Linked DNA regions of Homo sapiens: region 1 is linked to region 2. A link means that fine-mapping ties the variant in region 2 to the expression of a gene that starts in the linked region. Tissue or cell type: naive CD4 T cells. Region 2 holds a variant in brackets; the other region holds the start of a gene. All regions are shown on one strand. Distances are from middle to middle.

What was found. PIP is the estimated chance that this variant, and not a neighbour inherited with it, causes the effect.
Region 1: it holds the start of LPAR2, and the variant in region 2 is fine-mapped to the expression of LPAR2 in naive CD4 T cells (Schmiedel 2018, PIP 0.95).

The regions. Positions count from the first base shown.
Region 1 is chr19:19,627,055-19,629,657 of GRCh38, reverse strand. It overlaps LPAR2 (lysophosphatidic acid receptor 2), which reads left to right and starts at 1,438. Exons shown (of 3, transcript NM_001395660.1): 1 at 1,438-1,566; 2 at 2,374-2,603. The coding sequence starts at 2,383. It overlaps GMIP (GEM interacting protein), which reads left to right. Exons shown (of 21, transcript NM_016573.4): 21 at 1-182. RefSeq lists silencers at 688-817, 1,188-1,687 and an enhancer at 128-1,050.
Region 2 is chr19:19,565,182-19,567,936 of GRCh38, reverse strand. The region is part of intron 5 of PBX4 (PBX homeobox 4); the gene reads left to right. Among named protein-coding and RNA genes, the nearest start is that of CILP2, 28 kb to the right of the region's middle. The variant AG/G (reference allele first, on the strand shown) is at 1,236.

The DNA of each region.
Region 1 (2,603 bases), 62 kb before region 2:
CCACCCTAGTCTCTGACACCTGGGACAGGGGTGCTTTTGCTACTTTGGTTGTGGTCACTCCCCCACACCTGCCTGCCTCCTTCACGGACTCGAAGTGACCTTCCTGGAGGAGGTGGGCAGCTCAGACTCCACATGCTGGTGGTGCCTGAGGTCTGATGGCCTCTAATAAACTGTGTCCTATATGCCCTTGGGTGCATCTCTGCTAGGGGAGAGGCCAGCATGGGTAGCACTCCTTGCCCCCATTTTACAGATTAGGGGAATCAAGGCCTCTTTTTTTTTTTTTTTTTTTTTTTTTTTTGAGACGGAGTTTTGCTCTGTCTCCAGGTTGGAGTGCAGTGGCACGATCTCCGCTCACTGCAACCTCCACCTCCCGGGTTCAAGCGATTCTCCTGCCTCAGCCTCCCGAGTAGCTGGGACTACAGGCGCCTGCCACCATGCCCGGCTAATTTTTTTGTATTTTTAGTAGAGACGGGGTTTCAGCATGTTGGCCAGGATGGTCTCGATCTCCTGATCTCGTGATCGTCCCGCATCGGCCTCCCAAAATGCAGGGATTACAGGCGTGAGCCACTGCGCCCGGCCTCAAGGCCTCCTTCTTGCATCATCAAACACCCTGCAGCACCTACGTAAAGGCAGTTGGAGCTGGGTCGCAGCACCCGGCTGAGTCACGCCAGCCCGGCCCTCCCGGAGCTCTGCGTCCCCGATCCGGTCCTGCATAATCAAATACAGTATAACAAAGTACCGATAACCGGGACAATGGGGCTGTGTGCTCCGGACCGTGGGAGCCCGGGGCCGCCGCAGGGAGGCCGAGGGAGGAAGCCACAGGGCAGGGCAGGGCAGGGCCGGGCTTTGCAGGGGGCAGCGCTGTCCCAGGGTGAGGGGTACGGGGGCGGGATTGCAAAACCCTAGCGTGCGCCCGATGATCAGCTGGGGCCGCAGAGGTGGGCCTCGCACAGGAGGCCGCGGCTCGCTGATACTGCGAGCTGGCAAAGCCGAAGCTGGGCGGGGGTCCGGGCGGTGGGAGCCAAGTCGGATCAGGGAGTGGCTTGTAACTCGGCGGCCGATTGGACACGAAGAAGAGAGCGGGGTGGGGCTGGGAGGGTTGGGGGTCCGGAGCGGGGGCGCGGACCCAAGACCACCTGGAGCTCCGCCCGGGCAGCGCGGGGTCACGGCGGGAATTTTCGGGTCGCCGAGTGACTCAGCCCCGCAGGCTCGAAACTGCGGGCGCATGAGGTGTGCAGGTACCGGGGTGGGGGTCCCGCGCCGGAAATAGGGGCGACTGAGGGGCCGCGAGGCGGGGAGGAAACAGGGGGGCTGCGGTTCCGGGCGACACCGCCCCCGACGCGGCCGTGGAGGCGGGGCTCCCCCAGGTGGCGGGGCGGGGCAGGGCTCCCCCAGGTGGTGGGGGCGGGGCGCCGGGGAGACCCCGCCTCCCGCGCCCTCTCAGCAACCCGCACAGGGCGCACCCGGACGCTCTACCGCTCCCGCCGCAGTCGCCGGGCCATGGGCCTCGAGCCCGCCCCGAACCCCCGCGAGCCCGCCTTGTCTGCGGCGTGACTGGAGGCCCAGGTGAGGCCTGCACGGACGGGAGGCGGGCGGGTGCGGGCCTGGGCCCGGGGGAAGGGCGCGGCACGTGCCTGCGGGGCCAGGACGCCGCCCTCTGATCCCTTAACCCCCTACCCCTTCCCCAGTCTGGAGACGCCTGGAGGCCCGGCCATCCATCCCTTCCCCAACCGCTGTCTTTGTCCCGGAGACCGCCAGTGTCCTCCGTCCCACCCGGAACAGCCTATTGCCCCGCCCGCTTGGGAAGCACTCGCGCCCAAATCCCGCCGACTAACTTCTGGGGCCGCCTCTCTGTCCACTCCGATCACCTCCACGCCTCGGCACCGCCCCCTCGCAGGGTTCTAGCAAGTGACCTCACCCTTGTGTGCACACGCTCCCGGGTCTCTGCTCCCTACACTGACTCCGGCACCAAAGTGATCCTCCCTCATCTCTTCCCGCAGCTCACACCCCTTTGTCTTTCCCTAACCCTCCTCTCCCCACAACCCAAACCGGGTCACACATTGGCGGCAGGTGGGCTGGGATTCGACCATAGATGGGTTTTGTTTCACTTCTGGTTCAAAAACCTATTGACTTGGGTGATGTCTTGCACACAGGTCTTATTAGTAGGTAAGAAACAGCTGCTCCTCCACCTCCACCCCAGCCCCATGGAGCTTGCTTTTTCCAGGCCACCGTAGTCCTCACCACTGCCACTTTGCTTCGAGGTATCTGAATTTGAGACCCTTGTCCTTCCTGCGCTGACCCTCCTCTGCAGCTGCCGCCCCTCCCTGTGTCCTTCCAAGAAGTGCCACATGCACTGATCTCTTGTGTCCCCAGATGGTCATCATGGGCCAGTGCTACTACAACGAGACCATCGGCTTCTTCTATAACAACAGTGGCAAAGAGCTCAGCTCCCACTGGCGGCCCAAGGATGTGGTCGTGGTGGCACTGGGGCTGACCGTCAGCGTGCTGGTGCTGCTGACCAATCTGCTGGTCATAGCAGCCATCGCCTCCAACCGCCGCTTCCACCAGCCCATCTACTACCTGCTCGGCAATCTGGCCGCGGC
Region 2 (2,755 bases):
GAGTGTGAGCTGCCTGAGGGATACAGGTGGGGTGTGAGCTCCCTGAGGGATACAGATGGAGTGTGAGCTCCCTGAGGTGATTGAGATGGAGTGTGAGTTCCCTGGGGGATGCTGTGGAGTGTGAGCCCCCTGAGGTGACGTGGTAGAGAGTGTGAGCTCCCTGACTCTATAGCCTGGTAGGCAGCCACCAGTGTCCTCTGTGGAACTGGGGGTGAAAGAGGGAGACACTAAGACCAAGAGGCTAAGAAATATTTCCGAAGGTTTTAACATGGAAACAGTAAGTCCAGGCAGCCTATGGCAGCAAGCCAGGTCCAGGCCATACCCCCGTGGCAGCATGAGTGTGTGGAACAGGGCCTGGGTGCCGCCCTCCCACCTGGGCAGGCACAGCCCCACAGCCTCTATGGCAGCAGGAATGGCAGGTGCTGACCCACAGCATGGCTTGCTGCATGTCACCACAGCCCTCCCTACTTTGCAGTTGGAGGGGCTGAGTTTCTAGTCCTTCACCACCATGCTCTGCTCCAACCCAGGCTAAGTCCAGTCAAGTCTCTGTGACAGAGAGCAATTGGAACCCCTCGGGGTCACGCAGGCAGCAAAACATCCTGAGGTCATAGTCACATATGACTTTGCTCATCGGGATCTGCTGTGGTGTCAGAAACAAGGCCAGAGCTGGAGCAAGGGGCTGCGCCTCTGGGTCTTCAAGGCCCCTGGAGAAGCGTGAGACATTTGGCCCCCAAGGAACAATTGTCTGGAGGACAACCAGGGCTGCTTCAACCAGGATGGAGCCTCTGGGGCCTCCCATGTGGATCAAGAGAAGGCTGCTCACACCCCCGGGGTAGGCAGACACTATGTTTGGAACAGAGAGCACACAGACAGGGATCCTTCTTTTTATACTTAACATTGCAAGGATAATGTAAGTACACCAAATGTTGGCCAGGCATGGTGGCTCATGCCTGAAATCCCAGCACTTTGGAGGCCAAGGCGGACGAATCACCTGAGGTCAGGAGTTCGAGACCAGCCTGGCCAACATGGTGAAACCCCGTGGCTACTGGAAATACAAAAATTAGCCAGGCTTGGTGGCACATGCCTGCAATCCCGCTACTGGGGAGGCTGAGGCAGGAGAATCATTTGAACCAGGGAGGCGGAGGTTGCAGTGAGTTGAGGTCGCACCACTGCACTCCACACTCCAGCCTGGGTGACAGAGTGAGACTCCGTCTCCGAAAAAAAAAAAAAAAAAA[AG/G]TACAAAAATTAGCCAGGCTTGGTAGCACGTGCCTGTAGTCCCAGCTACTGGTGAGGCTGAGGCAAGAGAATCACTTGAATCTGGGAGGCAGAGGTTGCAGTGAGCTGAGATCGCACCGCTGCACTCCAGCCTGGGTGACAGAGTGAGAAAAAAATGTTTGAAGTAGCAAAGGTCATCCACAATCCTCTTCCATCCCTCAGCTGTTTCATTTCTGTGTGTTATTATACTATACGTTTATTTTACTTGCTTTGGGATACTGAAATGTGGCCCTGGATGGACGTCTCCATGCCTGTAGGAAGGCGCTGGCCCTGGGGTGCTCACCCATGTGAATCTGCCCAGGGGACATTTTTGTTGTCACGACTAGAGAAGGGAAGTGCTCCTGGCACCCAGTGGGTGCCAAGGATACCGCTCAGCACCCTGCAGTGTACAGGACAGCCCCCACAGAGCAGATGGAGCCCAAGCATCAGCAGTGCCACCAAAGGTGACAAGCCCCTCCCTGGGGGACTCCAGTGCCAGTTTGCAGTCAGAGCTGGGCTGATTCCACCTTGGCCATGGACTAGCTCCTTTTTCTCCTGCCTCTGCTTTCTTACAGCAGGGACGATAACAGCTGCCTCCCAGGTCCTCATGAGGATGAGGCAGAATGATATATGAGGCTGGGCCTGGAATCCCAGCATTTTGGGAGGCCAGGGCGGGAGGAACTCTCAAGCCCAGGGGTTTGAGACCAGCCTGGGCAACAGAGCGAGACCCTATCTCTAAAAAAAAAGAAAAAATATATTTTTTTTTCTGAGACAGGGTCTCACTCTGTTGCCCAGGCTAAATTGCAGTGCGATCTTGGCTCACTGCAACCTCTGCCTCCCAGGTTCAAGTGATTCTCCTGCCTCAGCCTCCCGAGTAGCTGGGATTACAGGCATGTGCCACTGTGTCCAGCTAATATTTGTATTATTAGTAGAGATGGGGTTTCTCCATGTTGTCCAGGCTGGTCTCGAACTCCTGACCTCAGATGATCCCCCCACCTCAGCCTCCCAAAGTGCTGAGATTACAGGCGTGAGCCACCACGCCCGGCCAAAAAACCTTTTTTTAATTAAAATTAAGAAAAATATATGAATATATGAGAAGTGCTTATCCTAGCACCTGGTACATTCCAACTACCCCTTCAGAGTTCACCTTGTTTTCATTTGATAAGTTTGGGATTCGATCGCAGTTACTGGGTCCCCAGGTCTCCCTGGCTCTCACTTTTCCTGAAGAGAACACGGAACGTAACCTGCCGCCTGCTGCATGGCAGCCAGAGGCGCTGTCCCTCCCGGCCCACCTCAGACAGTCTTGTTTTCCTTCCAGCCCCTTCCCAGGTTCAGGTTCCAGCAACATCCAGTTTTAGGCAGCAGAGTTCTAAGACACGCCAGCTCCAGGGTGTCCTCAACCCATGTGGACATCTCCCTGGGTCCGTGGTTCAGAGGGCGCCACCTTCTCAGTCCCAGACTCTTCATAGCCCCAGGGTGCAGTGTTGTCTTCTAAGGCAGT